7 separate regions of the Homo sapiens genome follow, and regions 2, 3, 4, 5, 6 and 7 are each linked to region 1. The links come from fine-mapping of genetic effects on gene expression. A gene starts in region 1. Each other region holds a variant in brackets. All regions are shown on one strand. Distances are from middle to middle. Region 1 holds the start of MARCHF8 (membrane associated ring-CH-type finger 8). Region 2 overlaps MARCHF8 (membrane associated ring-CH-type finger 8). Region 3 has its middle 65 kb from the start of MARCHF8. Region 4 overlaps ALOX5 (arachidonate 5-lipoxygenase). Region 5 has its middle 59 kb from the start of MARCHF8. Region 6 overlaps ALOX5 (arachidonate 5-lipoxygenase). Region 7 holds the start of ZFAND4 (zinc finger AN1-type containing 4).

Evidence for each region. PIP is the estimated chance that this variant, and not a neighbour inherited with it, causes the effect.
Region 2: its variant is fine-mapped to the expression of MARCHF8 in blood mononuclear cells (TOPMed, PIP above 0.99).
Region 3: its variant is fine-mapped to the expression of MARCHF8 in transverse colon (GTEx, PIP 0.97).
Region 4: its variant is fine-mapped to the expression of MARCHF8 in whole blood (TOPMed, PIP 0.99).
Region 5: its variant is fine-mapped to the expression of MARCHF8 in whole blood (TOPMed, PIP above 0.99). The same link has a PIP of 0.9 or more in blood mononuclear cells, lung, monocytes, monocytes after LPS, monocytes after Pam3CSK4 and sun-exposed skin.
Region 6: its variant is fine-mapped to the expression of MARCHF8 in visceral fat (GTEx, PIP 0.97).
Region 7: its variant is fine-mapped to the expression of MARCHF8 in blood mononuclear cells (TOPMed, PIP 0.98).

What each region holds. Positions count from the first base shown.
Region 1 is chr10:45,533,068-45,537,167 of GRCh38, reverse strand. MARCHF8 (membrane associated ring-CH-type finger 8) reads left to right here and starts at 1,797. Exons shown (of 8, transcript NM_001282866.2): 1 at 1,797-1,957; 2 at 3,879-4,058. The coding sequence starts at 3,957.
Region 2 is chr10:45,471,227-45,475,326 of GRCh38, reverse strand. All of the region lies in intron 3 of MARCHF8 (membrane associated ring-CH-type finger 8), which reads left to right. The region is part of intron 1 of LOC105378286 (a long non-coding RNA gene); the gene reads right to left. Among named protein-coding and RNA genes, the nearest start is that of MARCHF8, 62 kb to the left of the region's middle. RefSeq lists an enhancer at 1-478. The variant A/G (reference allele first, on the strand shown) is at 2,511.
Region 3 is chr10:45,598,638-45,602,737 of GRCh38, reverse strand. No RefSeq gene overlaps it. Among named protein-coding and RNA genes, the nearest start is that of MARCHF8, 65 kb to the right of the region's middle. The variant G/T (reference allele first, on the strand shown) is at 2,112.
Region 4 is chr10:45,439,212-45,443,211 of GRCh38, reverse strand. ALOX5 (arachidonate 5-lipoxygenase) reads right to left here. Exons shown (of 14, transcript NM_000698.5): 8 at 2,579-2,782; 9 at 1,782-1,868; 10 at 1-174. Among named protein-coding and RNA genes, the nearest start is that of ALOX5, 67 kb to the right of the region's middle. RefSeq lists enhancers at 1-271, 272-1,042 and a silencer at 1,399-1,630. The variant C/TC (reference allele first, on the strand shown) is at 2,497.
Region 5 is chr10:45,592,285-45,596,384 of GRCh38, reverse strand. It overlaps a transcript of MARCHF8 not described here. Among named protein-coding and RNA genes, the nearest start is that of MARCHF8, 59 kb to the right of the region's middle. RefSeq lists silencers at 1,312-1,381, 1,662-1,821, 1,922-1,991. The variant G/A (reference allele first, on the strand shown) is at 1,908.
Region 6 is chr10:45,432,945-45,436,944 of GRCh38, reverse strand. The region is part of intron 7 of ALOX5 (arachidonate 5-lipoxygenase); the gene reads right to left. Among named protein-coding and RNA genes, the nearest start is that of ALOX5, 61 kb to the right of the region's middle. RefSeq lists enhancers at 3,101-3,639, 3,640-4,000. The variant A/G (reference allele first, on the strand shown) is at 1,608.
Region 7 is chr10:45,670,259-45,674,358 of GRCh38, reverse strand. ZFAND4 (zinc finger AN1-type containing 4) reads left to right here and starts at 1,587. Exons shown (of 10, transcript NM_174890.4): 1 at 1,587-2,109. RefSeq lists a silencer at 1,285-2,004. The variant G/A (reference allele first, on the strand shown) is at 1,960.

The DNA of each region.
Region 1 (4,100 bases):
GAGGAGATGTTTGCATTTCTCTTTGGTGTATATACCCTAGGATTGAAGTTGTTGGGTCATATGATAACATGTTTAACCTTTTGAGAAAGAGCCAGACTATTTTTCAAAACGACTGCATAGATCCTCACTAGCAGTATATGAGGGTTTCAGTGTCACAACATCCTTGCTAACACTTGTTTGTCTTTTATTATGAACATAATTAAAGTAATATCTAATAGTTTTGATTTGTATTTCCATGATGGCTAATGATGTTGATTAACCCATTTTTCATTGGGTTATTTGTCTTTATTATTATTATTATTATTATTATTATTATTATTATTATTATTATTTTGGTAGAGATGGGGCCTCGCTATGTTTCACACACTGGTTTTGAACTCCTGGCCTGAAGCAGTCCTCCCACCTCAGCCTCCGAAAATGCTGAGATGATAGGCGTGAGCTACTTGCACCTGGCCTTGCCCTTATGTTACTGAGTTGTAAGAGAGTTGTTTATATATTCTAGATACAAGTCCCTTATTACATATATGATTTGCAAACTTTTTCTTCTGTCAGTTGTCTTTAGACTTTTTTTTTTTTAACATTTATAAATAGAGGTAGAGTATTGCTATATTGCCCAGGCCTTTCTTGAGTTCTGGCCTCAAGAGATTCTCTTGCCTTGGCCTCCCAAAGTTCTGGGATTATAGGTGTGAACCATTATGACTGGCTGTGTTTTCCCTTTCTCAGTGGTGTCTTTTGAAGCACAAAAGTTTTTATTCTGATGATGTGTAGTTTGTCTGTTTTTCCTTTTGTGTGAGGAAGAGATCCAAATTTCTTTTGCATGTGGCTATCTAGTTGTCCCAGCACCATTTGTTGAAAACAGTACTCTTTCCCCAAGAAGTGATCTTGGCACCCTTCTTGAAAATCAGCTGACTATAGATACGTGGGTTTATTTCTGGGCCCTAAATTCTATTCCATTGATATATCTATTCATATTCCAGTATGACACAGTCTTGATTACTGTTCCTTTGTTGTAAGTTTTGCAATCTGGAAATGTGAGCTCTCCAACTTTGTTCTTTTTCAAGGTTGTTTTGGCAGATCTGAGTCCCTTGAATTTTATATAAATTTTCAGATCAGCTTGTCAAATTTCTGTAAAGAAGTCAGCTCAGTTTTTGATAGAGATTGCTTTGACTCTCTATGTCAACTTGGGAAGAATTGCCATTTTAACAATATTAAATCTTCTGATCCATGAACATGGACATCCATTTCCAATTTCTTCAACAACCAGCTTTGGCAGTATCTCTTCTAGATGTGAATGTTCATGTTAGGTGGGCTGTATTTTGCAAGTTAGCATTAGTCAAATTGAAGCCCTCATGCCTGGATTGTGAGGCATAGTGCTGAGGTTTAACTGTTATTCTGTGTAAAGATTAATTTAGTTGATATAAAAGATGTTTGGAAATTATGCAAAGAAAATAATGTAATATATGATTTGTATTTTTCATGTAAATCTTCACATAAAAAATGGCATGGCCTGTTTTATCGTTTGTTTGTAAACTCATTTTTATCCTAAATATGTGTGGCATAGGAGGGAGATTGTTTCAGGCAAACTTATAGGTCTGTTGCTTTGTTGTGGTGGTACATATCAAAAGACTAACTTCAATGACAGTGAGGAGGGATGTCCTTCAAAACTGTAAAAAATTTGAGACCCTCTTGCATCTGTGTTTCTGTGCCATAAATAGCCCTTCTCAGGCTTGTCATGGGCATGTACCAATGATGTAATAATGATGATTATATCAGAAGCACCACAGGTAGCTTTTGGCATGGTAGGTATAGGGCTGTGGATATCGTCAGTTTGACCAAGTATTCCAAGAGGCCCCATGGAGTTTGTCATCTGTAATAGAGGACGTTAGTGCATTAGTGATGAAAAAACTGCTTACCACTGACTATTGTGATCTCCCAGGGAGTATAAGGCAGCTCCGCAGTAAGTGCCTCTTGTTTTGTGTGACGTGCTTGAATACAAACATTCAGACTGTTTCTTGGGCACAGTAGTGCTCCATCTTATGCCAGCCTCATCAAAGGCTTGAAATAGAGTAGGTGGTGTGTGATACCTAGACACTAACATCCCCTATTCTATTTTCCTTTTTTTGTTGTTATTATCAATGGTCACTCACTTACTGTAAAACTAGACTTTATAAACAGATTATTATTTTAGCTAATTTTCTTCTATGTGTTGATCCCTCCCAGTTTTTGTTCCTTTTTGTTGTTCATTGATTCTAGAGTTGTGTGAAGGAAGCCATTTCGTGATTCCTGGTGCTCCTCTGCTTGCTTAGTGACACTACTAAGAATTGGCACCAGCCTTACAAACACCTGCCTTTGATCCAGAGTAGAGTTTGGGGAGAGGTAGAGTAAGTGACTGCTTATCAAATGTGACCTTGGGGTTGTCAGGCCCTGTTGTTTACCCTACCTTTTCCTACTGCCTCACCTGTCCCCACCCCCTACCCCAGCACATGGTTAATAAATGAAAATCTCCAAATTCGAGATTCATTCTTTTGGTTGAAGGCTTCCATTTTCTGTTAAAATTTGAACAACATGAAACATTTTACTACATTAAACCTTCTGGATAATTTACGTTTAATTGGTTTTGTATACAGAGTGGGATAGATCTCAGTGGGTAAGTGGGGAGAAAGAACAACACACAATTCAATTATTAGACATTTTGGGGGATGCGTAAGAGAAAACCAGAAACAGGGCAGGAGTACCTGGAATCACTGAAGACAGTTTATGCATACACTGTTATTTTACCTAAAGGCAGCCTTTCTCATGGTTCTTAGGCATGTCATGGTGACCCTTCATATTCCCTAGGAAACCCTTTACGGCAGTGTTTGGCAAACTATAGTCTGGTGGGCCAAATCTAGCCTGCTGCCTATTTTTGTAAATAAAGTTTTATTGGAACATAACTATGCTCATTCATGTACATACTCTTTTTTTTTTGGTGGGGGGGAGGTTGGGGGGTTGGAGTCTCGCTGTGTTACCCAGGCTGGAGTGCAGTGGTGCGATCTTGGCTCACTGCGAGCTCCGCCTCCTGGGTTTGTGCCATTCTCCTGCCTCAGCCTCCTGAGTAGCTGCGACTACAGGCGCCCGCCACCATGCCTGGCTAATTTTTTGTATTTTTAGTAGAGACAGGGTTTCACCGTGTTAGCCAGGGTGGTCTCGATCTCCTGACCTCGTGATTTGCCCGCCTTGGCCTCCCAAAGTGCTGGGATTACAGGCATGAGCCACCGCACCCGGCCCATTTACATGCTCTCTATGGGTGCTTTCATGCTACAGTGGCAGAGTTAATTAGCTGGAACACACTTGGACCACAGTGCCTAAAATATGTATCTTGCCCTTTATAGGAATAGTTTGCCAACAGCTCGTGTAGAGTCTCTACTTTTGGAAGGTTAAGTATGGATCATAGATACCTTGAGTTTAATTTGGACTTCCTAACCTCTGATCTCACCATTATGTGGACTCACAGACAGTGGTTTTAAGGAAAGATCACTGCTTATTTCAGGACAAATGCTTGGTCATGATAAAAAAAAAAGTTTAACTTCAAAAATATTCTTAAAATAAATGGTGGCACTGCTTTGTTTTAATCCTAAGTAGCCAATGGAAGATTATATCTCTGATTATACATGTACGTGATCCACCTGCCTCTTTCAGGTGCTCCCATCTTATTATGAGAAATGTTAGAATTTTCCCCTTAGACATTCATCTTCTATTGTTTTTGAAGACCAAACATTTATGTTGCCGTAACTTATTTAAATATACATATGAATATAAGTATAAAATGTTAAGCTCACTCTTGGAAATTTAAAGTGTTTTAGCTGAGTTATGTTTATTCTCTCTTCATTTTCTCTCAGCTTGAAATCCATGGCCCAAAATGACTCTACCAGTGGAGACTCTCTTCTGTGAAGAAGACGACCAGATAAGAGGTTGGGATGAGCATGCCACTGCATCAGATCTCTGCCATTCCATCCCAGGATGCCATCTCTGCTAGAGTCTACAGAAGTAAGACCAAAGAAAAGGAGAGGGAAGAACAGGTACTGGGAGAGTATCTTTTTTAGTTTCATTATTTTTATTAA
Region 2 (4,100 bases), 62 kb after region 1:
AGCAGTGGCTATACTGCAGCCCTACTACTGGGGAGAGTGGGGTTGCTTTCAGTGGCAATAGGTATGCCAGCGGCTAGGGAGTGCACACTTTGCTCACTTTGTCCTTGGCGCTTGTGAAAACGTGCAGTGGCTTCACTGCTGGAAGCAGCAGGGTCTTTGCCAAATGGTTTGCACTTCATCCCTGGCAGCAGCAGCTAGCTGCTGCAATGGCTGTGGTGAGGAATATCAGTGGGGTTCCAGGGATGTGAAGAAGCAGGGACTGTTGGGCCCCCAGCAGGATGCAGTCTCCTGAGGACTGGGCTCTCAGTATGGTGTCTTCTTGTAGCTGCCTTGGACTCCAGGGGTGTGTGGGACCCATCACGAGCTCCCTCCCTGGAGCAATGCCTTCTCGCCATCTCCAGGCAGCTCCCTCTGTTAGCCTCAAGGCCTGTGAGGGTCTAGGGCTCTGTCATGGCTGGAATTGCAGAAGTGCATGGTAGGAATGTGGACCGCTGGGGATCGCTCGCTTCCCCTTTCCCCACACTGGGGAACCTCTTGGCTGCCTTGCCTGACTGCCCTCTCCTTGCCTGCTCTAGGTGTTTTCTGTCACTTCTCTGTTGAATTCGTGTTCTCTGTTAGATGATCTATTCAAAGTCTGATTCTTCCTCGCTATTTTGGTTCTTCTTTGTAGAGGAGGTAAGTACCAGATGCCTCTAGTCAGCCATCTTGAAGCCCCTCCTCTAGATTTTGATTGGTTAACTTTTTAATGTGAAAATATAACTATTAAAAAGCATGTTCTTCATTATATCACCTAAACTCATTGTGATGGCCCTTTGTGAGATAGAGCTCTGACAGATGGGTATTCAGGAGGCTGTGTGGTAGAGAGAAGGGAGGGGTGGGGATGGGGCAAGCCAACTTTCCATCTCTGCTGTGAGCCTCTGCCTGTCAAGGGGCCATTGTCTCGGGGTACCAGGAAGCCATAGAGTATGGCTGGCAGGGGCGATGCACAGTGTACTGGGCATGGCCTCAGGGTGGACTCAGGTGACGTGAGGTGACTGCCTGTTCAGGACGTTGTGTCCTGTGCCACCACTGCCCCCACCTGCAGGCTGTCTTACCATTTGACAATATGTCTCATCTCTAACATGGAGACAAGGAGGCCATGCAGAGTTTACGAGGATTGCACACATTGAGATTTTGTCCAGCACCTAACTGTGTGCCAGAAATTGTGCTTTGAATGCTGAACCAAACAGCAGAGGGAAGTACGCAGACCTCTATACGATACCACGGATGGAGAGAATTCCTACAAAGGGAACAGTAAGGAGCTTAGGTAGAGAATTACAGGGAACCCAAGTTGAAGGACTGCTCAGAGAAGATGTGGCTCAGGAGAGACATGTAAAGCAGATGTGAGAGGTGGAAAGGAGCCAACCAGGATGAGGTTAAACTGTAGTAGAAAGATCATTTGTCACCTGCTTGGAAAGTCCAGTACTTTAGATGGACAATGAAAGGCATCTTCAGTGGCTGGGGGTGATGGCTCTCATGGCACCCTATTGCAGGTGGCTGTAACCACAAGATTGTGTTGACTGTGGCTGTTCATGTGAGTACTTTGGCCTAAAATCCTATAGAGGCTGATTGAAATTCGCAGAGGAGGCTTAAACCCACTCTATTCAGCTGGAATTTCTTTAATACCAGGAATTGGCCTAGGCTAGGCTAATCATAGGGGCTGGACTTTTTGGAGCCTCTCTTGATGCCTCTCAGAGGAAGATTGTGGTGCAAAAAGGGCAGTACATAGACACAATGTTATTTTATCCCCAGGGAAGCCTTCTCATTCAACCCTGGGAATCAAACTTGGTCCAGGTGACACAATTTCTTGAGCAAGTTCATGATTGGCAGCACTTACCCCAGGGAGAAGGCAGTGGAAGCCCGTAGCACGAGTATCTCTCTGCCAGCCCCCTAGCCAGCCTGGCTCTGTAGGCTCTGGCAGTTGCCCAAGGCTGGGGCCTTGCAGACTGTGATATGTACCTCTTGTTAATCAAATATTCCTGGGTAGAATCAGACTGGACATGTTTAATGAGCAATTACAATGATTGCTCTATTGCTTGGCAAGCACATCTCAATGAATTTGAGCACTAACCCTCCTAGGCCTCCTGAATATTTTCCGGTTATTGTTGCCATTAGACAGGGATGAGATACAGCAGAATGTCACGTATCAGAGGGACATTCCTTACAAGGAATTCTTGCTGACCCACTTTTATTACGCGAGGGCAGACCTGGATGTGATTGTCAAGACCAGGGTTTGCTTCTTTCTGTTTCTGAATGCAGAGTTGACCAGTGACACGCTCAGGTTACTCAAAACTTATGGGTTACAAATAAGGCAAAATGTGCTTTCTTAATTTATTCTGAAGAAAACAGCTGTCCCAAAACAGGATATTTATTCCTAAGTGACAAAAACAAAGGATGAATTGGAGGAGTTTCATGGCATCAGGTGGCCTCAGCACCACTGAGCCTCACTCGAATCCTGACAGCACTGAGGC[A/G]GTGTTTCCGTTCAGCTCCCCTTTTGCAAAGTTTAACCGACTGTCTTTGCAGTATTTTTTCATCTGACTGTTACAGTTTAGTTTTTGGCTGAAGTTTGGTTCAGTCTCCTGAAGGTGGAAGGGGGGCAGGTTTAAAACAATTTCCCAATAATACCAAGATTATTTCCATTTTTCACTCTCATTCTTCCACAAGTATACAGCGGAGTTCCAGAAGCTAAGCAACATGCAGGATAGCATCTTCCTTAGCTGGTGGAATATGTTCCTGTGTTTTAAGATGTTCTAATATAGCAAAGATGGAGAGATGGAACCCGTGTAAACAAAAGCTTTTTGTGAGGGCCTCAGTAATTTTTAAGAGTTTAAGGAGGTCCTGTGGCCAACAAGTTTGAGAATCTCTGTTGTAGAGGCACAGTCTCCCCAGAGGGTAGCTGTTTAGTTCATTGAGCAAATGTTCCCTAAACACCTAGTGTGTACCAGACCAATCAGCAACAGCTTCTAAGTTAACATATCCCAGTAACATCTTCTTATAAACCTTGATAGGTGCAGTGAAAGAAATGAATAGGGTACAAGGATATGATAACAGGGATGAAAAGCCCTTTCTCCTCAGAAAGGAGGAGGGGCCATCATGCTGGGTTGGAATGTGGGAGTGTTCCTGGGAGGAGGAGGAGGGGTGGGAAAGGCCACCAGTTGCCGGGAAAGGAGGGCCTAGGCCTAGAGGAAGTGAGGGTCATTTTTCCTGCCTGCCATGTTTCTGTCAGTAGTATACTCCGCGGCTCAGGGTTCGCTCTTAGAGTTCTGTGCATCTTGGGCCAGGGCTGGCCAGATGAGTAGCCTGAGCAGAAGCTGTTTTCTTCCCAGGTGGGTGGACGGTGGTTACCTTGGTTGGAATGAGGCATTTTGTAGCAGATATGAGACCTGCAGGTTTACTCTCTAGGTCATCAAGAATCAAGAGTGGTAGTCACACGGAAGTCTTGTTCCACACTGGAGGTGTGCCTGGAGTGGTGTGTGCTGCATTTCTGCATCTCCCTTGACTTTATTTGATCCTAGTAGCAGCCCTGTAGATTGTTGACCTCATTTTTTAAATGATTAAACTCCTGCTCGGTAGTGTGCTCAGTGGACTGGCCCCAGAACACAGAGGGAAGACTTTGGGGTCAAAAGCCAGTGCTTTGGCCACTGCCCCAGAATTCTCTCAGAGGAAATATTTTATTGCCTCTTGGCAATGAAAATGTATTTCGACTATATTTGAAAAGTTCAATATTTAAAGGAAATCAACAGTATTAAAGGGTCCTTGTGAGTGATAAGTAACTCACAAACACAGCCCCTTTCACCGTGTTATTTCTGGTGATTTTGGATTTTTATATGGTTACATCTTTAGTTTCTGGGACTGTGAAGCCACCTTTGCTCAGAAATCATTGTCTTCAATGTAATTTATTGAAAACAAATTATATTTGCAAGATCCTCAGCTGCAGCATGGAGGAAGACAGTCCTGAAAAAGTCCCTTCAGCTGTGGCCTTCTGTCCCCTCCACCAGTGCTGTAATATATTCCCCTCATTGTTCTGGGGATTTATTGCTACTCAAGTAATTCCGACTCCC
Region 3 (4,100 bases), 66 kb before region 1:
GTATTTTTGATAGAGATGGGGTTTCACCACATTGGTTAGGCTAGTCTCGAACTCCTGACCTCATCTGCCCACCTTGGCCTCTCAAAGTGCTGGAATTACAGGTGTAAGCCACCGCACCCGACCTAATCACCTCTTCTTATGAGGACATCTGTCATATTGGATTAGGGCCCACTCTAATCTCCTTTTTTAACCTCCTCTTTAAGGACCCTATCTCAAAATGCAGTCACATTCTGAGATCTGGGAGTTAGGACTTCAACATATGAATTTTGGGGGTGGAGGGACACAATTTAGACCATATCAGATAATACATTATGCTGTGGTAACAAATCAATCCCAAAAGCTCAGTGATTTAACACAACAAAGTTTATTTTTCCACCATGGAAAACTCACTGAGCCAGGCAACTTCCCAGAACAGCTGACCCAGGCAGTGACTCAGTGATTTAGGCTGTGTCCACTCTGTGGCTTCACCACTGCAACATGTGGTCTAGATCACTGCAGCAGGGGAAGACAGAGCTGGAGGGTTGCATTTGGTGCTTTTGCCTAGATGTGTATATGCCCCTTTTTGCTCACAGCCCATTGTTTATAGGGCCTGACCTAATTGCAAGGGTTATATGAAAGGAGCTGGTAGCAAATGGATATTTAATGTGCTATAAATCTCTGCCAGAGATGGCAATAAGTGCTAATAACAAAAACCAAGCAGGGGAAGGTGACATTGATAGGAGTGCTGTTTCACAAAGGATGGTCAAAGACAACCTCGAGAAAGTCACATTTAAATAAGCTATAAAGGAAGTGAGGAAACATGTCCGGAATTGGTGGGTTCTTGGTCTCACTGACTTCAGGAATGAAGCCGCGGACCCTCACGGTGAGTGTCACAGTTCTCAAAGGCAGCGTGTCCGGAGTTTGTTCCTTCTGATGTTCAGATGTGTTCGGAGTTTTTTCCTTCTGGTGGGGTTCCTGGTCTCGCTGGCTTAGGAGTGAAGCTGCGGACCTTCCTGGTGAGTGTTACAGCTCTTAAGGCCGCGCGTCTGCAGCTGTTCATTCCTCCCGGTGGGTTTGTGGTCTCGCTGGCTTCAGGAGTGAAGCTGCAGACCTTCATGGTGAGTGTTACAGCTCATAAAGGCAGTGTGGACCCAAAGAGTGAACAGCAGCAAGATTTACTGCAAAGAGCGAAATAACAAAGTTTCCACAGTGTGGAAGGTAACCCAAGGGGGTTGCCACTGCTGGCTCAGGCAACCTGCTTTTACTCTCTTATCTGGCCCCACCCACATCCTGCTGATTGGTAGAGCCAAGTGGTCTGTTTTGACAGGGCACTGATTGTTGCGTTTACAATCCCTGAGCTAGACACAAAAGTTCTCCACCTCCCCACCAGATTAGCTAGATACAGAGTGTCCATTGGTGCATTCACAAACCCTGAGCTAGACACAGGGTGCTGATTGGTGTGTTTACAAACCTTGAGCTAGATACAGAGTGCCGATTGGTGTATTTACAATCCCTGAGCTAGACATAAAGGTTCTCCACGTCCCCACCAGACTCAGAAGCCCAGCTGGCATCACCCAGTGGATCCCACACCAGGGCTGCAGGTGGAGCTGCCTGCCAGTCCCGCGCCGTGCGCCCGCACTGCTCAGCCCTTGGGTGGTCGATGGGACTGGGTGCCCTGGAGCAGGGGGCGGCGCTGGTCGGAGAGGCTCTGGCCGCACAGGAGCCCACGGAGGAGGGGGAGGCTCAGGCATGGCTGGCTGCAGGTCCAGAGCCCTGCCCTGCAGGGAGGCAGCTAAGGCCCGGCGAGAAATGGAGTGCAGCGCCGGTGGGCCGGCACTGCTGGGGGACCCAGCACACCCTCCGCAGCCGCTGGCCTGGGTGCTAAGCCCCTCATTGCCCGGGGCGGCAGGGCCGGCAGGCCGCTCCCAGTGCCGGTCCGCCAAGCCCACTCCCACCGGGAACTCCAGCTGGCCCGCAAGCGCCGCGCGCAGCCCCGGTTCCTGCTCACGCCTCCTCCACACCTCCCTGCAAGCTGAAGGTGCCGGCTCCGGCCTTGGCCAGCCCAGAAAGGGGGTCCCACAGTGCAGTGGTGGGCTGAAGGGCTCCTCAAGCGCCGCCAGAGTGGGCGCCAA[G/T]GTCGAGGAGGCGCCGAGAGCGAGCGAGGGCGCACGCTGTCACCTCTCAGAAATGGAAGGAAATGTTCTACTCTTGAGGAGACTAAGGAACAGCAAGGAAGTCAGGTGGCTAGAGCAAAGCAAGTGAGAGGACGATGGGAAATAGGGGCTAGATCATGCAGGACTTAGAGCCAAACACTTCTGGATTTTATTCTGAATTGGGAAAATACTGGGGTTGACATGGTTTTGAAAAGTCACTTTGGCGATTGTGTAGGAAAAAAAAGACTGTAAGGAGGCAAGGATGGAAGTTGAGAGAAATATACAGCAGTCATCCACGTGGGAGATCCTAGGGCTGGGCTGGGCTGTAGCAGCTCCTGGATGATAGTCACATGCTCTCCTTTCTCAAACCACCAGCACCTCTCTCCCTCTTGTCATGCTCAGCTTTTATTTTATTAAACTATCAACAATCGAAGAGAAATTCCACATGATACAGAAACATCGGGGATTCTGTCTAAGTCTTGGTGCTCACTGCTGAGGAAGAAGACTTTAATCAGGTGTTGCAGCCAAGGAGATGGGAGGTCAGTCTCAAATCCATCTCCCTGACTAAAATTTGGGGTTTATATAGCGGGGAAGAAGTGTAACAGTGTGTTAGAAAACACGAACTAGGGAGCGGTAAGGAAACAAAAGGAAGGGTCTGGCATCTCATTGTCTGAATGTGGTAATCTGGTAAGTTTCAATTATTTGATACTTTTTCAGAGGCCAGGGGTCCTTCCCGAGAAAGGAACTCAGATAAAACAAATGTAAGTTTCGAGCTTTAAGAAAAGAAGGGTCACTTTCTATGTTTGGCCAAAAGAACTGTCTATGGGACTATTGGGTCAGTTTCATGTTCAACAACGAATCTACCAAGCTATCTGTATCTGTGGCCTGCTATTCCCCTTCTCTTGTTTTTTCCTTATCTAAGGATGACTCCTCCAATCTACTCAAGATTTTCCTTCTTACAGTTGTCACTTTCTTGTACATCCAGTTATTACAGCATTTGTATTAGCATATAAATATTTAAACAGAAAACCTCAATCCTGCATCTCTTACCTACTATGATCCTATTTCCCTGCTCTCCTTTACAGCAAGAAAGCAATGATTGTATTTACTTGTCGTCACCATCTGTTATCTCAAGAATCAGGCTTTTAATCCTACCACTTTATCTTAATTGCTCTGTTCCCAAGGTCTCAGTGATCTCTACACTGACAGTTCAGAGGTCAATCCTCAACTGACTCAGCCTCTCAGTGCAAATGACACCTTTAGGCACTTGTCTCCTGAAACATTTCTTCACTTGATCAGGACTCCTCTGTTCCAGTTCTCCTCTTAACTCTGATTGCTTCTTCTAAATTTCCTTCTTATCTCTACAGTACCAGATGTCTAGCCTTTCAGTCTCTTCTTTTGCTGCAATTATGCAATTCGGACTTATGAACGTCCTAGATCGGTGACTTTCAATGATTTTCAAACTGTAGGCCACAACTGTTACTGGGTTAAAAAAATCAATTGAGTTCGGAGTGAAAAATTTAAACAGAAGAAATCGTGCATCACACGTAGGAATGGTAAATTTGTTTCTGGAAACTTTTAAATTATATACATGTATTTGGTTAATATGTAAAATGTATTTTGTATTTTGGGTTGAGGTCAAAGATATGAAAATAATTCTCTGTGTGATCTCATCCAATCATGTGGCTTTTTGAATACCACTGCCTAATCTTCAATTTATATCTCTATATCTCTCCTCTGAATTCCAGTCTGGTGAACTCGAGTCTGGTGAAACTATATCTTTATTAAGGTTATTAATAAAAAGGAAAAAGTATTATATCAAGGCAACAACAACAACAACAACAAAAAAAAAGGAAAAGGCATTTAGATTTGGGACCAGGAAACGTGAATTCAATGTTGGCTCTACCACATAGCTTTGCAACACTTTACTAGGTTATTGCTAGTTTCTTCCTTTGTTTGCAAGCTCCCCAT
Region 4 (4,000 bases), 94 kb after region 1:
GATGGCTTCCCACACCAGGAGCCCGTCGTCCCGGTAGAAGTAGTAGGGGATGTCTTCTTTGCTCTCCATGCCCCGGGCCTTGATGGCCTCGGGAAAGCACAGGGAGGCATAGGTCAGGTCCTTCATGGCCCTCTGCACCATCTGCACGTGCCCACCGCCCCCTGTGGCGTTGGCCTGGAGTGGGAGGTAGAGTGCCCTGAGCGGGTGGCTCCTCCCACAGCTGTCCAGACCCATCCCTGAGGAAATGTGCCAGGGGAGGCGAGGAGGCCAGGCAGGCAGAGGTGCAAGCCCTTGTCCTGTGAGATGGGGGAGGGATGTTTAACGCAGAGAATGACAAGGGCAGCCGGGTGGAGAGGTGCTAGGGAGGAGCCTCCCGCCCAATCCAATGCAAGGGACTGAACCGTGGGGCTGCAGAGTACAAGAGGGAAGGGTGCGCTCCCAGCCACAGGAGGGCAGCAGGCGTGGGCAGGTGTGTGGGGGACCCCAGCACCAGCGGGCCTGGGCTGTGAAGTCTGCTCTAGTGCTGAGCACACGACCCTCAGTCATTGCTCTCAGTGACCCTCAGTTTCCAGGACCCATGCAACTCTGTTGAGGGCCTGTTGTGTGCTCAGGTGAGGGCTGGAGAGACCCACAAGGAGGGATCCTGGTCCTGATCCCGATCCCGGCTTCTGAGTGATGCAGACACACTCACAAGCTCACTGGCACATATGTGTGTCCACGTGCACACACACACATGCAAATACACCCAGGGGGCTGGGCTGTCGGTGCCACAGAGGTTTTGAAGAAGGACTTGGGTGCTGGGGTGCCAGAGATTGGTCCACGGTGGGCATTCAGCCCAAGCAGGACCAACCAGAGCTGCCCCCCAGCACTTTCTGTTTAGATGCGGCTGGGAGATAATGGCCACATGAGAACCTGAGGTGGAGCTACTATGATGAGCTCCTGTGCCCTCTCCCATGGGGGCCTGTCTGCAGCAGGAGAGTGTGATGCCAACACAGGTGAAAGAGACAGAAAGAGGGAGCCAGTGTGCATGCACCCTGGGGCATTGCTTGAGTCCCTGGATCCATTTCTGGCTGAGGCCCCCGACCCTCTATTGTGTCCAGGTATTTGAGATAAGGCATGTCTTGTCCAGCTGCAGCTGGTTTGAGTTGGGTTTTGTCATTTGCAGCCCAAACAGTGTCTCAACTTCAGTGGTCATCTGGCCTGGTCACTAATGGGCTGGGGAAAGGAGGAAGGTTGGGGCAAGGGCCCATGTGAGAGTCCAAGCTTGGTAAGGCTACAGAGGGCTCAAAACGAGGTGGGGTGCTACCTGAGGGATGCGAGGGCTGGGCAGGGCCTGGAGTCCCCGATGCAGGAGACAGTGGGTTGGGAGGGTTGGGACCCGGGAAGCAGAGTGCTGGGGAGGTCCAGGTCAGGGTGGCAGGGGTGTGGCAGATTAAGAGGCAGACACAGGTTCCTGGTGCGTAGGAGGTCAGGGGGCCATAAGGAGTGTGTTCCAGAGGGGGGTCTACACCCAGGTCCCAGAGGCTGGGAGAGGGGAGGGGTGGGAGGAGGGGACCAGGAGCCATCAGTGAGAAGGAAGACCTGGTGGTGCGCCTGGAGGAGTGCTCCTGGCTGAATGGCACGGGCTGGAGACATCAGGAGGATGCTGGAGCCAGTGCTCTGAGCAGACTCCAGCCTTCACCCTTCCAGGCCTCCTGAAAGGGTGTCTAGATCTCAGATAGGGAGTGAAGGCGGCCAGGCTGGGCTCTTCCAGGCAACAAGTAGGGTAGGAGGGCACCCACCTTGTCAAAGAGGCCACACTCGCAGATGAGCTGCTCACGGGCCTTGGTGTTGATTGCAATGGTGAATCTCACGTGTGCCACCAGCAGCTGGGGAGGGGAGAGGAGGAGGCCTCAGAGGGGGCCCAGTCAGGTGACCTGGTGCCTCAGGGACCCGCAGCTCCCCCACCCAGGCCTGCCCTATAGGATGATGCTGGGCGCAGGGAGGAAGTGAAGGCTGGGTGCTGATCTTTCTGCTGAATAAGTGCTGGAGGCCTGCACCCCTCTGATGCTTACTAAGCATGATAATGATTCAGAGGGTCCTGGCCAGCACTTGTACAATGCTTACCTCTTTGCTCCCTGAGTTCACTGTCTTAATCTGACCATCATTCTGTAAGGCAGCTGTACTATTTGACCTGTTTTACTGGTGAGGAAACTGAGGCACATGGGTACTTTTAGCATGCAGTCACCCCAGCAGCCAATGCTTGTAGGATTCGAGAACAGGGACGGAGAGTGATGGCAGGGGCGGCCATCAGCATCAGCCGAGGATCACCATGAACTCATTTGCCTTTTCCAACTCTACTGGCTGGCCAGCGAGGCCCGTGTGTCAGGCCCATGCCCCAGCCGCGTGTCCTGGGGAACAGCAGGCTCCTAGCTGTTTTCTTCCTTTAGGGGCATTACTGACTCTGAGAACATCTCTCCAGGGCTCCCTTTCTGCCACCCACTCCCAGCCACAGGT[C/TC]CCCCTGTGGGATGTCAGTGATCCCTCCCACTCCACATCTCAGATGCCCTCCCATAGCAGGTGGGGCGGTAGCTGGCTGTACCTTGAAAATGGGGTGCACAGCAGGCAGCTGGCGGTACATTGCAATGCCAAAAACCTCAGACACCAGATGTGTTCGCAGAAGGTGGGTGATGGTCTGGTGGACGTGGAAGTCACTGGAACGCACCCAGATTTTGGCCAAAAGCCAGTCGTATTTTGCATCCGAAGGGAGGAAAATAGGGTTCTCATCTCCCGGGATTTGGTTGAGCTGATACATTGGGGGAAAGGAAACACACTGCTATATTTCACTTCAGAGTATAGTTGTTGGAGAACTTCGCCTCTTGGGAAGTTCCAGAAGTATCTGAATTTCTTTAACAGTGACTTTGGAATCAGAAGAGCCTGGAGGGGGTAAAGGGCCCTGCGGTGGTATTTCCTGTCCCAGCCATATTACTTACAACCTGCATGACTCTGGATGACACACTGGGCTTTCTAAGCTCCGGCTTCAGCATCTGTCATGTGGGGACAGTGATCGCTCGGCTCACAGTTACTCAGGAGCTGGCAGCATGGAAGGAGCGGGCAGGCCGAAGGCCCAGCAGCGGAGGGGGAGGATCGCTGTCCCCCTCTTCCCTCCTTGCCCTGCTCCCTCTTCTACTGCCTCTCCTTGGTCTCTCATACTTTCCTCCCTCTCCTCTTCCCTGAAATGCTGGAGCTCCCCAGGGTCTGCCCTGGTGCTCCTGTCTTCTTTTCTTGCCCTAAGTCAGCTCCTCCTGTTTAAAGGCTTGGGGCCCTCCTGGTACTGAGCCTCCCAGATCAGGGTCTGCAGCTTGAGCTCTGCCTGGAGCCCACACCTGTGGCCAGGCACCTCCTGTAGCAGAGGCTGGACCTGTCTTCCCTTTCCAGTTTCCACTCCACACTGGGACAAGGTGAGTTTTTTTCTTTTCCAAAATGCAAATCATGTCATGTTAACTGCCTCCTCAATCACCTCTTAATGCCAGAAAATAAAATCCCCAAGCTCTGTGGTGACCTGGTTGCTGATGCCTCTGTACACACAGCCTCACTTTCGTGCCCCCACACCAGCACCCAGCCCCAGGTCCCTCCATGCCAGCAGCCCTGCACGTTGCCCCCTTATTGAGAGCCCAGCACAGCCTCAGCACCCGACAGTGAGTTCTCACGGGAGCCGGCAGCAGGTGCTGGCATTGCCCATTTTTACATGAAGACATGGGGTATTGGAGGGGTTGACAGAAAGAATGAGGTGGGTGGCAGGGCTGCAGCCAAGAGCGGCCAGGAAGGGGCATGGCCAGACTTTAGGTGCTGGGAAAGACCAGTGTCACTGCAGCACAGTGGTCATGGCTGGGGAGGGAGAACTGTCCCAGAGCACACAGCTGTGTCACTTGCTATAAGTATTGTGGAAGGTGGGGTCCTTGGGCGTCTCTCCCTCGAAAACAGTGCTGTCCAATAGACATATAATGCTACCCCACACATGGAA
Region 5 (4,100 bases), 59 kb before region 1:
ATTCCATATCCATTCATCAGTCAGCCAACCCTTTGGCTCAACAAGCCTGGTCTAGGCATAAGCTATACCAATGGAAGATATTGGTACTACCTTCATGGAACACCTGCTGCCAGAAGCAGTAGAGCCAACCAGGTTGTGGCAACTGGCCTTGATAACCTATTTTCCACAGTAAAAGACAAATGGAGAAAATTCATCATTTTTCTGCTCTTTGTAATACTGTATTGTAAGTGTGTTATAGAAATGGAGATGTTTTGACCTTGCTGATCCAGAGGATATCTTGAGCACACTGTTTTGAACCTGACAATCTGCTTTTTACTTAGCCAAAAATTCAAAGTGGTCAGAATTGTAGGGAGGAATTGATTAGCTATATGATAGATCACTCCGGGACAACAGAACAACTATGGAATATTTGAGAGGATTTGCTTATAATTCACTCATGAATTTACTAAGAAATACAAATTATTCATCTTTTATGCATGATTATGGGAGAAATAAAACTGGCAGTGGTTGAAACTATTTCTGGGAAGTTTGATGTAGGAAAATTGGATTTGGTAGACAGTGATGAAAGTGACAGAGGAATAATGAGAGTTTTATGTGGACAAAAGATGAATGCAGAGTCTGGCCCGGTGCAGTGGCTCATGCCTGTATTCCCAGCACTTTGGCAGGCAGAGGCAGGCGGATCACGAGGTCAGGAGATTGAGACCATCCTGGCTAACACGGTGAAACCTCGTCTCTACTAAAAACACAAAAAAATAGCCGGGCGTGGTGGCGGGCGCCTGTAGTCCCAGCTACTGGGGAGGCTGAGGCAGGAGAATGGCGTGAACCCAGGAGGTGGAGCTTGCAGTGAGCCGAGATCGTACCACTGCACTCCAGCCTGGGCTACAGAGTGAGACTCCGTCTCAAAAAAAAAAAAAAGAGATGAATGCAGAATCAAATATTTAGACGTCTGTATGTACACAGAGATGATTCCCCCATAAAAATTAAAATACAACTTAAAAGTAAGAAGTCGTATAAACCTCCTTCACGTGCTTTCTCTGGCTGAGAGGCTATGCTGTGGGAATCTTTCAGTCCAGATTAGGGAGCGAAAGCAAACAAAAATCTGTCAAGGCAAAAACCGTTATTACTTATTCCTTCGCTTTTCCTCCCGTTTGATAGCCTCAGGTAAGAAAGTATTTTCCATCTTCTTCTCCAAGTAAAACATCCTTTTGCCAGACAAAATTTCCTTTTCCTTCCAAAACACTAATATTAATAACATGTAGTCAGGGCCAGGAGACACTAAACGACACACACAGAGCTGGGGAAGTCTTTTCGGTTCCAAGCCCAGTGGGTTGTCGCCTGGGCACTGCGAAGGGGTGGAAGCACAGAAAGGCCGCGCGGCGGCACCCGCTGCAGCCCGCCCCCAGCGCGCTGCAGTCGCCGGGGCAACGCCTCCACCCAACTCGGCCGGACACGTGACGCCCGCGTCACGTGACCTGCCACTCGGTGTCCTCCCGCGGAGGGGCGTAGGGTGTAAACAGGCGACGCGCTGGGGGAGGTGCGGCCTTGCTGCGTCCACGTCTCGGGCATGCTCGAGGCGGGCCAGGGCGGTAGCGCCGCCAGCTCAGAGCCCACCTGAGGTAACTCCTGCGGCCTCTAGGATCGGAGTCCCCCACGCCGCGCGCAGCCGCCGCCGCTGGCCGCCAATAAGGGCGGCCGAGCCCCCGGCCCGGGCAGGGGGTGTGGCTGCCGGCAGCGCGTCGGCTACAGGTGGGCTGGGCTGGGCTGGGCTGGGCTGGGCTGGGTGGGGGCGGCCGCCAAGGACCCATCCCTGCGCTGCGGGCCCGGCGTGGAGCCCGCGGAGAGGCAGCGCGACTCCAGGCAGTGGGTCTCTCTGCCCCGGTGCTCGCGTCTGCCCCTGGGGCCGGGCC[G/A]AGCGGAACCAGGAATCGCAGAAACGGTCAGCGCCCAGGGCTCTAGGCCGGCCGCCCCGGGTGCCAGGTGAATTCCTTTCCCTGACCGGCTGTGAGACGTTGGCCCGTCAGCCGTCGTCTTTGGCCTGAGTGTGCACATCTGTAAAATGGAAGCTCGGACTAGTGATCCGTGAGGACCTTCCACGTCTGACGTGTGATCTCGAGAGACCTGCGTACATTCGGGGTGCCAGAAGGAAAGCATAGGTAACTATTTTGTCCTTTAATTGCTAACTTTTCTTTGGTCTTTAAATCTGTTTTCATCTTAAACGATTCGTATTCCTGTCCACCTGGGTGAAGTTTTTAATAGAAAACTTATTGGGTGGGGGTTATAATGGTTTATGTTACCGTTTTCATGTTTCTTTAATGCAACAAAACCTTTTTTTCTTAAAACCTATTTGGAAGCCCAAATTGTAAAAATAAATAAATAAAAATGGAACCCTTTTCTGCCTCACTATCACTATTCTCACCACCCATCCCCACGCTAACTACCCTTGAGGACCCCTGCAAGTCATAGGTTGAGGAGCTCTGTATGGAGTTGAGGAAATGTTTTGTGTATTTTTTAATTTGATGGGATCTGGAAAATGAATTCTTTGCATGTGTGGAGTTTTCTGTTATTTTTCTCTTTATTTTGTTCGATTGCATGCTATGTAATTAGACAGCTAGCATAACCCTCACATACCATACTTCGGGGCCTTTTTGGCCCCAAAATTTCTGATAAAGACGTTTCTCTTTCCATGTTTCCTTGCATCCCAGTCCCTGGGGAAGTAAGTGTATGTTTATAATAGTGAGACTTCATTCCTCATTGCTGATTTAGTTGCTCCGATACAGAATGGGAATGGGAGACTTTTGAGGCCAACCGAATGGGTTAGGACATATCTGAAAAACATGAAAACGCTAAAAAGCATGAAAACTGAAGGAGTATACGAACTCAAGTCGTTGAGAGTCATGAAATAATGTGAACATGCTCTTGTGTGAAATCTTGAGACCCTGGAGCAAGAGAATTTTGGATTTTGAGAGAACTGAGTTCAGGAGAGAAGGATGTCCTGTTTCATATGGTGAGTGAAAATATAAACAGTATGAGGTGGTAGTGTGTAGACAAAATTATCAGGTTTTTTTTTTTTAAGAGTAGCACATAGTTTCCTAATTGATTTTGGAGACTAGGGTTTTAAGAGATGTACTGAAACTTGAAGTTTAATGTTACAAGAGGGAAACCATACTCTTTTACACCTTGTCTGCTTGGTGCTTCTGTGAGTTGAGCAAGAATTGGAAGTGGAATGTACTGTAAGTGGTACCCAAGGTGACCTAGTGGAAAGGTTTTCTCTTTTCAAAACCAACTTACTTCCCTGATCTTTGGCTTAAGCTTAAGCAAGTCAGTTCCTTTCTTTGGTTCTCAGTTTCTGCTGAAAAATGAGGAAATTGGATTGATTACTATTCTACCTTTTGGCTCCAGCTAGGTTTGCCAGATAAAATACAGGATGCCTAGTTGATATGAATTTCAGATAAACAGTGAATTTTTGTAAAATTTTTAAAATAAATTTTTACTATAAATATTACGTGGGAGCATACTTGTACTAAAAAAAAGATTCGTTGTTTGTCTGAAATTAAAGTGTAACTGGGCTTGCTGTATTTATATTTCCTAAATCTGGCAGCCTTAGCTCCAACATTTTTGTCTCCTTTAAATTAGTGCCAGCTCAAAGCAGAGCTGGGAATGAATTGATTCAAGCAGCCAAGAAACCCTAATGGTTGTCAGTAGTAGCGTCTGGTTCTTGAGGGTTGTCGTTGATTCACTTGTGGTTTGTTTCTTTTTCCCTTATGTAGTAGTTCCATTTCTGCTATAATCACATAATGTTTAGGTTTATACTTCTGGTGGTAAGTAGTTTAAAATATCTGAAAGCAAGTTAAAAATATTGCTGAAATTTCTAAAAGTAACCTCATTTTTTCGAGCCTTGAAATGGTATGTGCTTTTTCCCCCCCGTAAAAGACACTTTACAACCCTACCTGTTCCCTAGGTTTGTGGTTGACTGCAAGACATTTTCTAAAGCCGTGGACTGTTCTGATGCCAAGTAATCAGGAAGTTATTCTTATGGCTTCTAATTTTGTTCCCTGTGAATATGAAAAATTATCACTGTATACACTATAAACATTTTATATTTT
Region 6 (4,000 bases), 100 kb after region 1:
AGCCAAGGAGGTGAAAGAGCTCTACAGAGAGAACTATAAAACACTGATGAAAGAAATCATAGATGACACAAAAAAATGGAAAAACATCCCAGCTAATGGGTTGGAAGAAAGCAATCTACAGATACAACACAATTCCTATCAAATTATCAACATCATTTTTCACAGAATTAGAAAAAAAAATCCTAAAATTCATATGGAACCAAAAAATAGCCGAATAGCCAAAGCAATCCTAGGCAAAAATACAAAGCTGGAGGCATCACATTACCTGACTTCAAACTATACTACAAGACTACAGTAACAAAAACAGCATGGTATACTGGTACAAAAATAGGCACAGAGATCAATGGAACAGAACAGAGAACCCAGAAATAAAGCCATATACCTGCAACCAACTGATTTTTGACAAAATCAACAAAAATAAACAATAAGGAAAGGACATCCTATTCAATAAATAGTGTTGGAAAAACTGGCTACCTATATGCAGAAGAATGACGCTGGGCCCCTACCTCTCACCATATACAAAAATTACCTCTAGATGGATTACAGACTTAAATGTAAGACTTCAAACTTTAAACATTCTAGAAGAAAACCTAGGAAAAAATCTTATGGACATTTCCTAGGCAAAGAATTTATGACTAGACCTCAAAGGCATATGCAACAAAAACAAAAATTGACAAATGAGACTTAATCAAATTAAAGAGCTTCTGCACAGCAAAACAAACTATCAACAAAGTAAACAGACAACCTACAGAATGAGAGAAAATATTTGCAACTATGCATCCACAAACGACTAATACCCAGAATCTATGAGGAACTTAAGAAAAAACACCACCATTAAAAAGTGGGCAAAGGACAGGAACAGACACTTCTCAAAAGAAGACATACAAGTGGCCAACAAACATATGAAAAAATGCCCAACATCACTAATCATCAGAGAAATGCAAATTAAAACCACAAAGGGATACCAGTCAGAATGGCTATTATTAAAAAGTAAAAAAATGACAGATGTTGGCAGGATGCAGACAAAAGGGAATGCTTACACACTGTTGGTGGCAGTGTAAATTACTTCCATCCCTGTGGAAAGCAGTTTGGAGATTTTGCAAAGAACTGCAAATAGAATTACCAGTTGACCCAACAACCCCATTACTGTGTACCTACCCAAAGGAAAAGAAATTGTTTTACCAAAAGGACATAGGCACACATATGTTTATTGCAGCACTGTTCACAATATCAAAATCATGTAATCAACCTAGGTGCCCATCAATAGTGGCACCAGATAAAGAAAATGTGATACATGTACTCCAAGGAATACTACATAGCCATAAAAAAGAATGAAATCGTGTTCTTTGCAGCAACATGGATGCAGCTTAGGATTGGCACTTAAGCCATAATCTTAAGTGAATTAACCCAGAAACAGAAAATCGAATACTGCATGTTCTTATTTATAAGTGGGAGCTAAGCATTGTGTACACATGGGCATAAAAGTGGGAACAAAAGACACTGGGGACTCCAGGAAGGGGAGGGAGGGAGGAAAGGGTTGAAAAACTGGGTATTGGGTACTATGCTCAGTATTTGAGTGATGGGTTCAATAGAAGCCTAACCCCAGC[A/G]TTATGCAATATAACCATGTAACAAACCTGCACATGTACCTGAATCTAAAATTTTATATATTAAAAAAAAAAAAACTGTTCTGACCAGTAAAAAAAGAGCTGAATGAGGATGGGCCCAGTGCTCTGCCTATTTCAGCCCATCACTCTCCCTTCTGCTTCTCTTCACCTCCCGGCCTGACCGGGCCTCACCTGCCCATCTCCTTGAGCTCTTGTACCACTGAGCTGGGCCTTCCCCAACCCATCCTTCACATCCTCCCACTCCTGTCCAGGATTTTGGCCTGCCATGGGATGCCAGAACTTGCCCTGAGCAATTTGTGTTTCTTAAATTTGTTTTTTGGGTAAGGAAGTAGCTTTGCGTTTCTGATTAGAAAAGAATATGTGCTTATCGTAAAAAGAAATCTGAGTCATGACAGGAGAGCCTGAGAAAGAAAACATCATCTCATCTTCCAGCGCCCAGGGATAACCACCAAATTCTGGGGAGCCTCCTTTCATAGGTCTTTGCATGTGTGCACATTTATCTGTCCAATTTTCCATCAACTGAATATGATTATAATCAACATCTGTCTCTTTGTTTTGCTCACCTGTCCCCCACTGGGCCATCACTGTGTTCCTACCTGGTGACACTGCGTCCTTGTGTCCCCATGCTGGCACAGTAGGCCTGCTGCATCCTTGCATTCATTTTACATAAGTGAGACCATGCCCATTGCCTTAGCAGTTTGAAGGAGCTATTTGTATACGACAGATATGTATCCTTTATCGGTCCCTTGTGTCTTGTTTTTCCACTGTTAACTCATTGTGGAGACCCCTCCAGGTCAGCTGGAAGGGAACCAAAGCATTCCTTTCAAAGACGCCTCAACATTTTATGGTGAGGACATGGAAGGGCTCACTCACTCAATCCTCTTCTGCCTTCAGACTGTTTTCAATTTTTTTCCCCATCACAAACTATGCTCCTGTTGCTACCCACACACATTTGTGCTTTCATTTCTGCTGAGTGGCTGCTAGCGAAGGCTGAGCCTTGGGGGTTTGGGTATGTTTTCGAGTAGACAGTGCCTGCCCTACTGTTCCTCAGACAGTTTCACTCTCCTGGTGCACACCTGTTCAGTGCTACTGGCTGTCAGAACACTTAAACAATAAAGTCCCCTCCAGTGCTCCTCCAATTGAGACGGGGCAGGGGCCTCCTCTTAGGGCACTGTAGCCCCCCAGCCCCGCAACAGGGCATGGAAATGAAGGAAAATCCCGAGTTCCTTGAAGGGAAGTTCCAGGCACCTAGCTAGCCCTGAGAAATAAATGAGCAACTTGACAAACAAGAGGGTAACAGCAGCCTAAAACAACAGCCAAGGAAGCCAGAGTCCTGGGCTGTTTGGTTCCCTCTGGAAACTAAAGAGAACCCCTGAACATGTGTCTCTGAGTTGTTTTTCAGAAACCCAGACCCCCACCAAACCGATCCACTGGCACAGAGACCTCAGATAAGACGGAACTGAGGACTGAACTCTGAGCAGGCTCTTTGTTCTAAATTTCTTCCTGGGGGGCCTGGGGGAAGTCCCGCCCACAAGCCACAGCTAACATTCCTTTCTGGTAACCCAAATTTTTAAATGAAACTTCTCTTCCTTAACCAATTTCAAAACAACAAATTTTTGAATCTACCTATGACCTGGAAGCCCACCCCCACTTCAAGATATCCCGCCCTTTTAGGCCAAAACCAATGTGTACCCTCCATGTATTGATTAATGATTTTGCCTGTTAACTTCTGCAATTCCTGAAATTCACTCTGCCTTTAAAAACCCTTACCTGCAAGCCATCAGGGAGTTCCGGTCTTAAGAGTGAGCTGCCCAATTCTCCTTTTTTGGTCCCCGCAATAAATGCCTTGTGTTCTCGTAGATTATATCCCAATCTCAGTGTTTGGTTTTGCTGCACTGGGCAAGCAGATCCCAGTCCAGCTCGGTAACACAACTGTCCTCGCCACGACAGCCTCAACCCCAGGACCCTCTGACCGCCCACTGCAACATGCACCTGGTACAGCAGGCGCTGTGGGATCTGCTCCGGTGCTGGCCGAAGCTCTGACCTTGCTCCGGTGCTGGCCGAAGCTCTGACCTTGGGCTGCCCAGGCCCACCAGTTATCCCGTGAACACTGCCAGGCTGCAACAACTCATGAGCAGAGCATGGGGCTCCGTCCTTGCTGGTGTCTGGGAGTTACCCCTTTGTTTTTCCAACCAGGCATGTCAGAAATGATATCTCATTGTTAACTTTCATTTGCATTTCTCTAACTACAGGTGAAGTTAGGAGTTTTTCCATATGCTGGTTGCCCATTTACATTTCTTCTTTTGTGAATTGCCTATTCATATTCTCTGCTCATTTTTCCACTGGAGTATTGGTATTTTCCCGTCAATGTAAAG
Region 7 (4,100 bases), 140 kb before region 1:
ACACTAATTTTACAGATAAAGCTAAAATCTGGAAGCAATGTGGAATAATGGAACAAGGTTGGATTTTTGTATTGTGTCCTAGTTTAAATATGGCTTTCCGACATAGAGCTGTTTGATTATAGGTAAATTGTTCTACTTTAATTGGCTTTTGTTTACTCCTTTGTAGACGAGGGATTTCACTACCAACTTTGCAGGATTGTGATGGGGAGAGAATACGTAAAGACCCTTATCAACTATCTGGCACTTGAAGAATGGCAGATGATAATGATGATGATGTTGTAAAGAATGAATGACTTGGCCAGGTAATGGAGCTTCTGGTATTGGGAGGCAAGGCTTTAAACACACCTGCCTGACTCCACGGTCCATGCTGTCAATTCTCCAGTGTGAATGAAGTGGGCAGGCAAGGGTGAGAAACGCTAAGGTTTTTACTCAGTAAGTCTCCATCACAGGCCCTATTCTAGGCTCAGGAATGCAAAGATGATTACCATCATAGCTCTGTCCTCAAAGGTCTCCAATCTATTTAGCATTAAGCATATGTGGAGTTTCAGAAGGAACCAACGGCGAGACTGGTGAATCAATGCCCAGTGCCTCACCATACTCCCCCAGTGTATGCTCAATAGTTCGTTGAACTGTGGAGATAAGTTGGTGGGTAGGGTCTCAGAAGAATGAGAGAGGACAGGAGACACAGATTAGATGTTTAGTTTCATATTAGACTGGCTCCTCTGAGCCAGAAGTCGAGGATGAGTGAACCCGCAGTGGGAGTGAGATGACATTCTTTGTCAGCTGAGTAACCCACTTAGTGAAGGAGGTTCACGGAGTTGGAAAATCGGTAGGGGGAACGGAACGAGGCAGTGGGCTCCCATGTTAGGTTGAAAGGCAGGTGTTGGCTTGAAGCCAGTTACTGTTTACACCGCAGCTCAGCAGCTTGGAAACTGGAGCAGGAGGTGTGGCTGGGCTTACCCAACGCTGGGATTTGAGCCCAGGGTGCCTACTCCATTGCCTGGCCTACAGTTCTCAGTAAATTGTATGAGGACTACAGAAAGTTATCTGTTTTCGCCTTTGTCTTCAAGCAGGCACGGTAATGCCCCCATTTTCCAGATGAGGCAATTGAGGCCAGAAACATTAGGGGACGGTGAAGCCTAAAGCAGATTTGTTAGGACAGGCCGGCCCAAACGCACCAGGAGCGCCCCTCACTCTGGAGAGGCCACCGACTGGACAGCGTCTGCCTGTATCGCCTATCTCCAGCAAATCAGGCGCCTGGAAGAGGATCCCCGGTGGGTCTCACGGAGGGCGGCTCCGGCTTCAACCCCGCCGTTCCCAGCAGGCCATGCGGCTGCCCTCCAGACGCCCGCGTGGGCACGAGTCAGGGGTCCAGTGTTGCTAGTAATAAAAGATCAACATCCGGGCCTCGTAACTCACAACCTCCAGCGAATGCCAAGAAGGCCCCAGGGCCCTGGCGCCCCGGCAACCGCCCACGTCCGGGGGCCAGGCCTGCCCCCGCCCGCGCTGATTGGAGGGCAGCGAAAGCGCCGTCCAGCGATTGGTAGGTGGTGTCACAAAGGGGCGGGGCGCGGCGGCAGCGGAGCGTTGTCGGCCAGTGCCTTCCGTGAAGTTGCTCGCCGGGTCGTTGGGCCCTGTCGACCTGTAGGCGGGCGAGCGAGCCAGCGGACAAGACTGCGGGTGAGGCTGAGCTAGCGAGCGGCCGGCAGGGGGGGCGCCCGGGCTGCGAGCCGCTGAGCCCAGCCGCGCTGCCGCCGCCGGCCGTCGTGGGGCCGGAATGGCGCAAGGCCGGAGTGGCGCGGGCGCTCGGCGCTGGGCTGCCGGGTAGAGTCCTGTCCCCGCCCCTCGCCTTGCGGCCTGACGCCGGCCGCTGCTGCCCGGGGACCGGAGCGGCGGGCCGCCTTTGCCCAGGACACACGCTCTGGCGTTTGTTCCTTTGGGCGTGACGCCAGCTTCAAC[G/A]GGTACGCGGCTTTCCCGACGGGTGCTGATCTCCGAGTCGCTGTTGTCACGCGGACTGCTGTCCTCCAGATTCAGGCCGGTGGGTCTGGGGAGCCCGGATTGGTCTTGGAGGAGCAACGGCTGCGCAGGTGACTCGGTGGCCTCAAGTGTGTAGGTACCTGGATGGCGCGAGGAGATGCTGGCTCTGAAATACTTCCCAATTCCGCTTGCAGATGAACTCCGGACTAGAGTTTAGGCTACAGACAAGTTAGGCGGTTGATGTGATTCTGTAGCTCGTATTTCGAACTTTAGGGATGTTTTGATGTATCAGTAAATGTAGATCTGTGTCACAGTTTTAATGGCAGCTTCACATTCCGGATATCTTTATGTTGGGGAAAATGTTTCAAAGGTAACTGCTCTTCTGTAGCTAAGCTTCTTTAGAGCAGAGGTTGGAGAAAATTCTGAGTTACTGAAATTACGTATTCAGCGCTATTGCCTGTTTACCTTTAACTTCCATTTCATCCTTGGAGTTGTGTTTTTAGAAACTTTTCAGAAGAAATGAGAGAAATGCTTTGGGAATTGATTTTTTTTTTTTTTTTAAGTTCTAGGGTACATGTGCACAACGTGCAGGTTTGGTACATAGCTATACATGTGCCATGTTGGTTTTCTGCACCGACTAACTCGTCATTTATATTGCGTATTTCTCTTAATGCTATCCCTCCCCCCATCTCACTCCCCACGACAGGCCCCAGTGTGTGATGTTCCCCTCCCTGTGTCCAAGTGTTCTCATTGTTGAGTTCCCATCTATGAGTGAGAACATGGCGGTGTTTGGTTTTCTGTCCTTGTGACAGTTTGCTGAGAATGATGGTTTCCAGCTTCATCCATGTCCATGCAAAGGACATGAACTCATCCTTTTTTTATGGCTGCATAGTATTCCATGGTGTATATGTGCCACATATTCTTAATCCACTCTATCACTGATGGACATTTGGGTTGGTTCCAAGTCTTTGCTGTTGTGAATTGTGCCACAGTAAACATACGTGTGCATGTGTCTTTATAGTGGCATGATTTATAATCCTTTGGGTATATACCCAGTAATGGGATCGCTGGGTCAAATGGTATTTCTAGTTCTAGATCCTTGAGGAATTGCCACACTGTTTTCCACAACGGTTGAACTAATTTACAGTCCCACCAACAGTGTAAAAGTGTTCCTATTTCTACACATCCTCTCCAGCATCTGTTGTTTCCTAACTTTCTAATGATCGCCATTCTAACTGGTGTGAGATGGTATCTCACTGTGGTTTTGATTTGCATTTTTCTGATGACCAGTGATGATGAGTGTTTTTTCATGTGTCTGTTGGCTGCATAAATATCTTCTTTTGAGAACTGTCTGTTCATATCCTTTGCCCACTTTTTGATGCGGTTGTTTTTTTCTTGAAAATTTGTCTAAGTTCTTTGTAGATTCTGGATATTAGCCCTCTGTCAGATGGGTAGATTGCAAAATTTTTTTCCCATTCTGTAGGTTGCCTGTTCACTCTGATGGTAGTTTCTTTTGCTGTGCAGAAGCTCTTTAGTTTAATTAGATCCCATTTGTCTATTTTGGCTTTTGTTGCCATTGCTTTTGGTGTTTTAGTCATGAAGTCCGTGCTCATGCCTATGTCCTGAATGGTATTGCCTAGGTTTTCTTCTAGGGTTTTTATGGTTTCAGGTCTAACATTTAAGTCTTTAATCCATCTTGAATTAATTTTTGTATAAGGTGTAAGGAAGGGATCCAGTTTCAGCTTTCTACATATGGCTAGCCAGTTTTCCCAGCACCATTTATTAAATAGGGAATCATTTCCCTACGTCTTGTTTTTGTCAGGTTTGTCAAAGATGGTTGTAGGCTGGGCACAGTGGCTTACGCCTGTAATCCCAGCACTTTGGGAGGCCGAGGCAGGCGGATCACCTGAGGTTGAGAGTTTGAGACCAGCCTGACGAACATGGAGAAACCCCTGTTGGGAGAAATCTCTACTAAAAATGCAAAAAAATTAGCCGGGCGTGGTGGCACATGCCTGTAATCCCAGCTACTAGGGAGGCTGAGGCAGGAGAATCACTTGAATCTGGGAGGCGGAGGTTGTGGTGAGCCAAGATCACACCATTGCACTCCAGCCTGGGCAACAAAA